2 separate regions of the Homo sapiens genome follow, and region 2 is linked to region 1. The links come from fine-mapping of genetic effects on plasma protein levels. A gene starts in region 1. The other region holds a variant in brackets. All regions are shown on one strand. Distances are between the middles of the regions.

Region 1 (5,381 bases):
GTCATATGGCAGTGGGGATGGCAACAAGCAACATCTTGCTGTAGATGTGTATTCCAGTGGCTTGCCCACAGTCCCTTTGTCAGTGGGGCAGCAGGAAAGGACCACAGGGTTTCTCAGAGAGAAGGAAGGAAGATCCTCCTTCATAAAGTCAAATCAAATTAGCCAGGCATGGTGGTGCATATCTGTAATCTCAGCTATTTAGGAGGCTGAGGCAAAAGAATCGCTTGAACCCAGGAGGCAGAGGTTGCAGTGAGCTGAGATCGTACTACTGCACTCCAGCCTAGATGACAGAATGAGACTGTCTCAAAGTAAAAAAAAAAACTAGAAAGTCAAATCAAAAGATACACCAACGGTGATGGTTTCACAGCAATGTGCATATACTTAATACAATTGAGCTAAACACTCAAAAATGATTAAAATGTGAAATTTTAGGCCAGGTGCAGTGGCTCATATCTGTAATCCCAGCACTTTGGGAGGCCAAGGTGGGAGAATCACTTGAGCCCAGGAGTTCCAGACCAGCCTGGGCAATATAGCAAGACTCCATCTCTACAAAAAAATTAATAATTAGGCCAGCTGCGGTGGCTCACGCCTGTAATCCCAACACTTTGGGAGGCCAAGGTGGGCGGATCACCTGAGGTCAGGAGTTGGAGGCCAGCCTGGTCAACATGGCAAAACCCTGTCTCTACTAAAAATACAAAAATTAGCTGGGTGTGGTGGTGGGCACCTATAATCCCAGCTACTCGGGAGGCTGAGGCAGGAGAATCACTTGAACCCAGGAGGCGGTCGTTGCAGTGAGCCAAGATCATGCCATTGCACTCCAGCCTGGGCAACAAGAGTGAAACTCAAAAAAAATTATTTAATTAATAATTAGACAAGTGTGGTGGCATGTGCCTGTAGTCCCAGCTACTTGGAAGGCTGAGCTGGGAGGATGGCTTGAGCCAGGGAGGTGGAGGTTGCAGTGAGTGGAGATCATGCCACTCACTCCAGCCTGCACAACAGAGCAAAACCCTGTCTCAAAAATAAATGATAAAATAAGATAAAATGTGAAATGTTTTAAAAAGACAAATTGAGTTATTGTTAAGAAAAGATTGAAAGCTAAATAATAATACAAAATGTTACATCCATAAAAACCATATAAAGAGTGGCATAAACCGGGCAAGGTGGCACACGCCTGTAATCCCAGCACTTTGGGAGGCCGGGGTGGGCAGATCACAAGATCAGGACATTGAGACCATCCTGGTCAACATGATGAAACCCTGTCTCTACTAAAATACAAAAAAAAAAAAAATTAGCCGGGTGTGGTGGCGCACACCTGTAGTCCCAGCTACTCAGGAGGCTGAGGCATGGGAATCGTTTGAACTTGGGAGGCAGAGGTTGCAGTGAGCCGAAATCGCGCCACTGCACTCCAGCCTGGCAACAGAGCAAAACTCTGTCACACACACACACACACACACACACACACACACACACACAGTGGCATAATTAGCACATGGTACAAAAGAGCCAAAGGAGGAGAGGGAAGTGGGGGCCAAGTAGAGTAGGAGCCTTGCTGGAAGAGGGGAATGCAAAAGGATCTTGCAGCATGGAGAGATTTTAGACATACGTTTGGAGGGAATTCAGTGCAACCCACCAGGAGAAGGGCCATGGTGTGTGACTGGCCACACTCCTAAGTCTCCTCCTCACATGTGGCAATTATCCCAATTTCCCGAAAGTCACTTTATATTAGCATTTGGCAGAGCATGTTTCTCAAGAGAGTTAACATACACTCCAGACTAAAACACAAACAAACAAACAACAAATGAAATTGAAAATGTGGTTAAACAGGTGCCTTTATTGCAGAACTTCTCAGAACCCAAAGTACATCTGTAAATCTCTCCCAGATGATTAGGTCATAGATCCTATTTTCCCAAAAGAATCTCAAAGAACTGGTATTTTGGGAAGCACCACTTTAAACCTCCCAGCTATTGCTAGTGGGTGGAAAAGGGCAGCCAACCCATGGTAAGCAGCACGGTGGAAAGTACCGAACCAAAACAGCTGTCAGGCCTGACACTGTGCCTTCAGATCCCAGGACACTTGCTAATGAGCAGCTGGGGCAGGGGACAGTGACACAGCCAGTGAATAGTATTAGGGTATGGCTGACTCCAAAAAAAAATTAAGAGTATTATTGTCTCTATGTGACCCTATGCTAAAAAACTTCACCTCACAACACCCTTATCAAGTAGACTATAAAATCACTTTCACTTCAGTGCTAAAAAGGCTGGAGTACTTTGCTTAAGGTCACACAGCTAGTGACAGAACCAGGCTTTCATCCAGTGAGGGGGATGATTCCAAGAGCACTCAAGAGTCACAGCTTAGAGCAGAAATCAACTCCAGGAAGCAGCTGGGACTGCTCTACCATCTCAAGAAGAAGAACTAGTAAGTGTCAAGGCTGAGGTGAAAGCTCAGAAGCAGATGGTTTTATTAAAAATGGGCAGAACCAAAAACTGGGCTCAGGGTAGAGAAAGATGACGCAGGGAACAGAAGCACTTGGAGGTCAAGCACAACACAGTTTAGAGACTCACAAGCTCTGTGAGTGGTCGAGAACATTCTCATGGGGCAGCTGCCAGCTATTGCTTTTCCTGCTGGCAGCGTCCGCCACAGCAGCTGGAACACACTGATGTTTCGTGTGTTCCAGCCACAACAGTGTACGGTTCTCGTGAAAACTTACCCTCAAAATAGTTGATGCTACAATTATTTGTTTTGCGGTTTTACTTACCACAGTAGGTGTATGAAATACTTGCATCGGATGAGTTGCAGACCCAATACTGCTTCTGAGCTTCAGTAAATATGGAAGAAAACAGGGTGGAAAAAAACAGAAATGGTAACATGATTCAATATCTCCAAAGCTTTACAAATGCAAAGAGGATCAGTAACTAATCATCAGACTCTTCCTTTTCAGTAAGCAGAAAAGATTTAACTTAGTCATCAGTCACATGATTTCTGAGTTCCTATCCAACTGTTTCCTCTTTTTTTGTGTGTGTGTGCTCAACATTTGAGCACTTCCTGTAAAGGAAGAGAGAAAAATGATTTAGAATGTACTCTTCAAACACTTACTGTAAATGAGAGTGATCAAAGACTTAAAAATAAAACAAGACACTTTGGCCAGGCACGGTGGCTCATGCCTGTAATCTCAGTATTTTGGGAGGCTGAGGCAGGTGGATCACTTGAGGTCAGGAGTTCAAGACCAGCCTGGCTGACATGATGAAACACATCTCTACTAAAAATACAAAAATTAGCCAGGTGTGGTAGTGCATGCCTGTAATCCCAGCTATTCAGGAGGCTGAGGCAGGAGCTTCACTTTATCTGGGAGGCAGAGGTTGCAGTGAGCCAAGATGGCACCACTGCTCTCCAGCCTGGGCAACAGAGCAAGACTCCATTTCAAAAAAATTTTTTAAATGAAAAATAAAATAAAATAAACAAGACAATTCCCAGTCAACTGTAACAAAACCAGTCCCTAGGTCCCCCTGAAAGTCTCAACAGACAGGCACTCCTTTTCCCTCTGCATTATTCTTCTCTCCTACAGCTCTGTATAACAGCAGTCCCCAACATTTTTGGCCTCAGGGATCAGTTTCATGGAAGACAATTTTTCCACGGACTGAGGGGATGGGGAGGGATGGTTTCAGGGTGAAACTGTTCCACCTCAGAACATCAGGCATTAGATTCTTATAGGGAGCACGCAACCTAGATCCCTCGCTTGTATACTTCATAACAAGGTTCCTGCTCCCATGGGAATCTAATGCTGCTGCTGGTCTGACAGGAGCTGGAGCTCAGGTGGTAATGCTCGCTCACCTGCTGTTAACCTCCAGCTGTGCAGCCCACTTCCTAACAAGCCACAACCAGATTCCTAACAGGCCATGGACTGGTACTGGTCCACGGCCCCCAGAGGATGGGGCCTCCTGCTTTATAAAACAAATTCTCAGCTGGGCACGGTGGCTCATGCCTGTCATCCCAGCATTTTGGGATACCAAGGTGGGTGGATCACTTGAGGTCAGGAGTTCAAGACCAGCCTGGCCAACATGGTGAAATTCCGTCTCTACTAAAAATATAAAAATTAGCCAGGCATGGTGGCACACACCTGTAATCCCAGCTACTCGGGAGGCTGAGGCAGGAGAATCGCTTGAACCCAGGAGGCAGAGGTTGCAGTGAGCCAAGATTGGGCCACTACACTCCAGCCTGGGCAACAGAGTGAGACTCGGTCTCAAAAACAAACAAACAGGCCAGGCGCAGTGGCTCACCTCTGTAAATCCCAGCACTTTGGGAGGTCAAGGTGGGCGGATCACCTGAGGTCAGGAGTTTGAAACCAGCTTGACCGACATAGTGAAACCCTGTCTCTACTAAAAATACAAAAATTAGCTAGGCATGGTGGCAAGTGCCTGTAGTCCCAGCTACTCAGGAGGCTGAGGCAAGAGAATTGCTTGAACCGAGGAGGTGGAGTTTGCAGTGAGCCAAGATTATGTCACTGCACTCCAGCCTGGGAGACAGAGCGAGACTCCATCTCAAAAAACAACAATAACAACAACAAATCAAATTATCATGGCCCAGAGAGCTGCACCTATAGATCTGAAGTAAACAGTCTCATGGAAACTATTTCTTTTCAGCAGCAGGTTTAGTTACAGGACAGAACAGGGCCAGATAAGACCCCAAACAGGGGACACTAGCTGTAATTCTGTGCTGTGGGCAGGGACTCCACCAGTCTTAATAATGTATTCACCTACAACAAGCTAGAGCTCAAGAGAACATTTTGAGTCCTAATAATGAAATGTCATCCTTTTGTTATGACATGTATTTCATTTCAAAACTCTCACTCCATTTTAGAAAGACAGCTATTCCTTTAGATATCTTGCTACTTGAAATCCTTTACAGGATATAGCTTAGGGTTAGCAGCCAAAAATGGCATGGAGTTTTGGCCTAAAAATCTGCACACTTAAGAAGAAAATAATCATACGTTGGTAAAAATATTTTACAACAGAAGTGTGATTTTTTCCATTTTTTTAGAGATAAAGTCTCACTGTGTTGCCCATGCTGGGGTGCAATGGCTATTCTTAGGTGTGATTATAACACACTGCAGCCTCAAATTCCTGGGCTCAGCTGGGACCACAGGTTTGAGCCGTGGCTCTTGGCCCTGCCATTTTCAAAAAGGCAAAAGTCCAAGGGAGGAGGGGGAAATGGGGAGTTGTTCAATGGGCATAGAGTCTCAAGCTGACAAGATGAAAGAGTTCTAGAGATCTGTTGCACAACAAGGTGAATATAGTTAACACCACTGAACTCTATGCTTAAAACTGGGTAAGATGGTAAATTCTTTAAAAAACACAATTTTAAAATAAATTTAAAAGATGGAAAAA
Region 2 (5,381 bases), 13 kb before region 1:
GCTGCTGTGAGAAGAGTAGCTGGCAGACAGCCTGCAGCTGCCATACCTTCACATCTATCTCAGCACTCAGCCAGAGGCCACCCTCTCGTAGGCTGCTCCTATAATGATCCAGCACTGCAAGGACCCTAGAGCCAGGCTACTCCCGCCTGTCATGGGTCTCTTACAACAGGCATTCTGCTCTGGGGCTTCCTATTTGGCCCAGCCCAAGAGTGTCTCAGGGATGCATTCTGGTCTGAGGATTATCCTACTTAATTCTCCTTCCTCCCTACTCTCTTTTCAAAGGTATCAGACCTGCACCCCAATCTGAATTTTCTCCTAGCCTACTCTGGCTTCCTCTCCCCTTTACTGTTCACAAGCGTTTCCTCCAAGAAATCTCTAGCCTAATTCCTTCTTAGTGTCTGCTTTTCAGAGAACTCTAAATGATTTCGTACTGTCTTATTATCTTGGCCTGGAAAGATACAACCTGTTTCCTGCGAGTAAGGGCAAGGGATTCACTTGAAAGTGAGATTATTCATTATGTAAATCATCCTTTATGCCAATTGTGTAGGGGTAAAACCTGCCAACAGACCAGAAAACAGAACCTAGGAAAAAAGAAGAAACTGTAGAGCCTTAGCCAAGCAAAACTTTAGATTATTTATTTTATCTTTGGCCAGGAAAGTGAAGGAAATAGAGTTAATCATCCTTTGCTCTGTGCTGTCACTAAGCCCTGTTGCTGTCACTTCACTTATACCATACTATCTGCAGTTCTGTCTCTCCTATTGCACTGATGGATTCCTGAAGATCAGGAGAATGTCTTATTGGCTGGGCACGGTGGCTCGCGCCTGTAATCCCAGCACTTTGGGAGGCCTAGGCGGGTGGATCACTTGAGGTTAGGAGTTCAAGACCAGCCTGGTCAGCATGGTGAAACCCCTTCTCTACTAAAAATACAAAAATTAGCCAGGCATGGTGGTGGGTGCCTATAATCCCAGCTACCCGGGAGGCTGAGGCAGGAGAATGGATTGAACCCGGGAGGCAGAGGCTGCAGTGAGCCGACGAGATCATGCCACTGTACTCCAGCCTGGGCAACAGACAGAGACTCCATCTCAAAAGAAAAAAAGAGAGAGAGAGAGAATATCTTATCAATGAATTCACAGTGCCTAGCATGATACTTACAATTTACTAAGCATCTTTTTAGTGAATAAATGAATGCAGATACAGAGTGTCAAAAAAACAGGTTGAACAACTAGAATCATGAAAATTAAAACACAAGTTTGTTGTCTATCATTCCTGGGTTCTCAGTTTTGGGGATTTTGTTGTTGTTGTTTTTCATTTTTCTGGTAAGCCAGAGAACTAAAATCGGGGGAAAATGTTTAAGCTTATTCATGTAAAACTACTCTGTAAAGTATTAATCTAAAACAAGCTCCAAATCTAAACTAGGATGTAAATTATGTGATAATGATGATGATAAAGATTAAAACTAAAGTTTTCTGGGATTCCAGAGCTTACAGGCAATAAACAATGTTTGGTAACTGGTAGGAGAGGAAAAAGTTTTGTGTCTGCACAGAGACTGAGATACAGCCCCATGCTATCACCCCACCTGCGTTAGTTTTTTCTAAGCTGATAACAAGCAAAGTCATAGAGAGGAAAACCAAGACACAACACAAAGCAAAACAAAACACATGGCCTTCTGTCATCCCATTATTACTGTATTTTTCTCTAGAAAGACCATCTTTAAAAAATATTGAAGTCCTGGCTTGCTGACACACAGATCTTTGACTAATGGAAACCCAATATTACTTATAGCTAATGATTGATGAAGGATATACCTGTAAGATTGTTGGACAGCTGAAGTTATTCCCATTTCTACCCACATGTTCTTGTGTAATCCTCTCCCAGTAGTATGGGCTAGCCTAGTGACTTGCTTCTAACCAATAGAACACAGCAAAGATGATGGAGTGTTACTTCCATGATTATGCTATATAAGATTGTGACTTGCCTAGTTAGCTGACTGTCCCCCTCGCTGGCTTTGAAAAAGCAAGCAGCCATACTGAAAATGCCCATGTGGTAAGGAACTGACGGGTGGCCAACAGCCAGCAAGGGACTGAATACTAACAACTGAATACTGACAACAGCTACGTGAGCTTAGAAGTATATATTTCCTAGTTGAGCCTCAGAAGGGACTCCAGCCTGGCAAACACCTTGATTGTAGCCTTATGGGAGACCTTGAAGCAGACACAGGTAAGCTATGCCCAGAATACTGATCAACAAAGATGATGAGATAATAAATGTGTGCTGTGTTAAGCCACAAAGATCGTGGTAATTTGTTACGTAGCAATAGATAACGAATACAAGTATATTTGAAACACAATCATTTATCACTGATATTTCTTAACTCCTTTGATTGGTCTATAAAAGCAAAAATTTGAACTTACTTGGAATGTAGAAAATGTGCAATAATCCTTTGGATC[T/C]TTTCAATTCTATACAGGGGTTAACATTAATTGAAATTGGGTATTGCATTTTATCTAAAAGCAATAAAGATAATGTCAATAAATTACTACAAATCATCTCCATTAAGTATAGTATTCTGAATATCAGCCTTTTAAGATGAATCTTGCATTAAAATTATAAAATAAGAAAAATTGATGATGATTGAAAATATCTCCCCAGAAGAATGACATCAGCAATGTGGCAGAATCAGAAGCCCTGAACTCTTCTTGCCTCCACTAACACAACAATTTACAGAAATATTCCCTTTATGAAAAATCAAACTAATTGAAAGACTCCTGCATGCAAGGAGAACACAAAACCAGATTCAACAAAGCCAGTAGGGAGACTTGGGACACTGTCTAATCAGAGATTATTACCCTGGTGTGGTGTCATACAATCAGGAAGAGACCCCCCCAACCAGCTCCTAGCTCCACCCATGGGAGGAGAGAAGTTGTTTCACATGTCCAGAACACCAACTTTTTCACGAGGGCTCCCCAGAGGACTGGCTTCTGTCTTGCCAGTCTTGGAGCTCTGATGAGTCTGGCACAGTCTACCACCCAGGGGAGAATAAAGGCAGTGGCTTGGGCAGATAGGCATCATTAATCCTCCCCTCTGCTCAGCACAGAGTGAGAAGATGAAAAATCTTAGCTCTCAGCTTTCTCCCGGGGAGGGAAAGAGTTAATCCATGCATCCAGCATCCCAATTTCTCTGGGGATCCCCAGAAAACTTATATCTGTCTCATCAGTCCTAGAGTTCTGACAGGTCTGGCATAGTCTAGCTGCCTGGCAGGGGAATGGAGACAGCAGCTTGGGCTGGTAGATGCCACAGTTCCCTTCACCACCCCATCTCTGGCTCAGTATGGAATAGGTGGACAAAAAAACACAGCTGCCTGCATCTCCCTGAAGTGAGAAAGAGTTGGTAGAGGACCCCAGAATCTCTAACCAGGCTAATAGTGAAGTGGGAAATTAAAGAAAGAAAGAAAAAGAAAATTAAAAAGAGAAAGAAATAAGCTTTCCTGTATTAGGCTGACTCATCTCAAAGGCAGTAGCAGGCAAGGCCCAGACCCAGGAAAAGTCTTGATAAACACTATCTGAGAAGATAGGACACAAAGAAATGTGCTCTGGAGACTCTTCCAGCACTCCCTCAACATAGGGAGAGGAAAAACAAATTTTCCTTTCTTTTATGATATGAGTTTACAGATTCTTGTTCTCTGTAACTAGGAACTTCAAGTATTCTGTTTTACCTAAGAAGTACAGCGAAGGTCGTGAGAAGCCTGAGCAGGCCTGAACTACAGCCGTCTGGGCACCATGGTGAAGGTTATGAGATAAACCAGTGCAAGGCTCTTTTGAGCAAAACCTAGATAACAGACATCTGGGTTGCATAGCAATGTTCATGTATAGTCCTGAGTTATGAACCTGTCACAATTGGATTAATTGTTCTGCCTCTATATCCTTGCTTTTGTGCCACTGTAAGCCTGCTTCAAGCTAGCCCACCCCCTTTTAGAAGTGTGTATAAAAGTCAAGTGCTGTCCTTGTTCAGGGCCCAGTTTTTGGATGTTAAGTCTGCTGGGTCTGAGTGCATTCAATAAAGATCCTCTTGCTTTCCCCCGAGGTCTCTCTCGTCCTCCTGATTCCCACAACAATAGGTGTGGGTATGTTCCTGTGTGAGGCCAATCTGTGAAGACTGAAAAAGATGTCTGCTTTGTAATGTGTAGATGCCAAACAGAGAGACAAGGAAAATGAAAGATCAGGCAAAGATGTTTCAAACAAAGGAGCAAGACAAATCTTCCTCACTTACACTAAGGAAATGAAGTTATATGATTTACCTGACAGACAATTTAAAATACCTCCATAAAGATGCTCACTGAGGTCAAGAGAACAATACATGAATGCAGTGAGAATTTCAACAAGAAGAAAGAAAACATTTTAAAGGACCACACAGAAATCATGGAGCTGAAGGCTGGGCACGGTGACTCATGCCTGTAATCCCAGCACTCTGGGAGGCCGAGGCGGGCAGATCACCTGAGGTCAGGAGTTCTAGAACAGCCTGGCCAACATGGTGAAACCCCACCTCTATGAAAAAAATACAAAAATTAGCTGGGCGTGGTGGCATGTGCCTGTAATCCTAGCTACTTGGGAGGCTGAGGCTGGAGAATCACTTGAATCCAGGAGGCGGAGGTTGCAGTGAGCCAAGATTGTGCCACTACACTCCAGCCTGGGCAACAGAACAAGACTCTGTCTCAAAAAAAAAAAAAAAAGAAATAAATAAATAAATCATGGAGCTGAGGAACACAATAACTGAACTAAAAAGTTCACTGGAGGGGTTCAGCAGCAGACTAGACCAAGTAGAGAAAGGATCAGTGAACTCAGAGAGAGATCACTGGAAAAGAATTCAATCAGAAGAGCAAAAGGAAAAAATAATTTAAAAGAGTGAAGAAAACTTAAGGTAATGGTGAGACACCACCAACCAGAACCATATATGCATTATGAGAGTTCCAGAAGTGGAAGAAAAAAAGAACAGACTACAGAAAGTTTATTCAAAGAAATAATGGCTATAATCCCAGCTACTCAGGAGGCTGAGGCATGAGAATCAGTTGAGCCTGGGAAGCAGAGGTTGCAGTGAGCTGAGATCACGCCACTGCACTCCAGCCTGGATAAAAGAGCAAGACTCTGTCTCAAAAAGAAAGAAAAGGAAAGAAAGAGAGAGAGAGAGAGAGAGAGAGAGAGAGAGAGAGAGAAAGAAAGAAAGAAAGAAAGGAAGGAAGGAAGGAAGGAAGGAAGGAAGGAAGGAAGGAAGGAAGGAAGGAAGGAAGGAAGGAAGGAAGAAAGGAAGAAAGGAGGGAGGGAGGGAGGGAAGGAAGGAAGGAAGGAAGGAAGGAAGGAAGGAAGGAAGGTTGGTTGAAAACTTCCCAAATC

Evidence for each region. PIP is the chance, under the fine-mapping model, that this variant and not a neighbour inherited with it causes the effect. The UK Biobank Pharma Proteomics Project read protein levels with antibody pairs (Olink). The fine-mapping took linkage between variants from a reference panel, not from the people measured, so its PIPs are less certain.
Region 2: its variant is fine-mapped to the plasma level of the LY96 protein (UK Biobank, PIP 0.99). The variant lies in the coding sequence of LY96. If it changes the protein, the assay may bind it differently, which can mimic a change of level.

What each region holds. Positions count from the first base shown.
Region 1 is chr8:73,988,929-73,994,309 of GRCh38, reverse strand. It overlaps LY96 (lymphocyte antigen 96), which reads right to left and starts at 2,918. Exons shown (of 5, transcript NM_015364.5): 1 at 2,756-2,918. The coding sequence starts at 2,867. RefSeq lists enhancers at 2,137-2,206, 2,577-2,676.
Region 2 is chr8:74,001,916-74,007,296 of GRCh38, reverse strand. LY96 (lymphocyte antigen 96) reads right to left here. Exons shown (of 5, transcript NM_015364.5): 2 at 2,412-2,501. Among named protein-coding and RNA genes, the nearest start is that of LY96, 13 kb to the right of the region's middle. The variant T/C (reference allele first, on the strand shown) is at 2,448.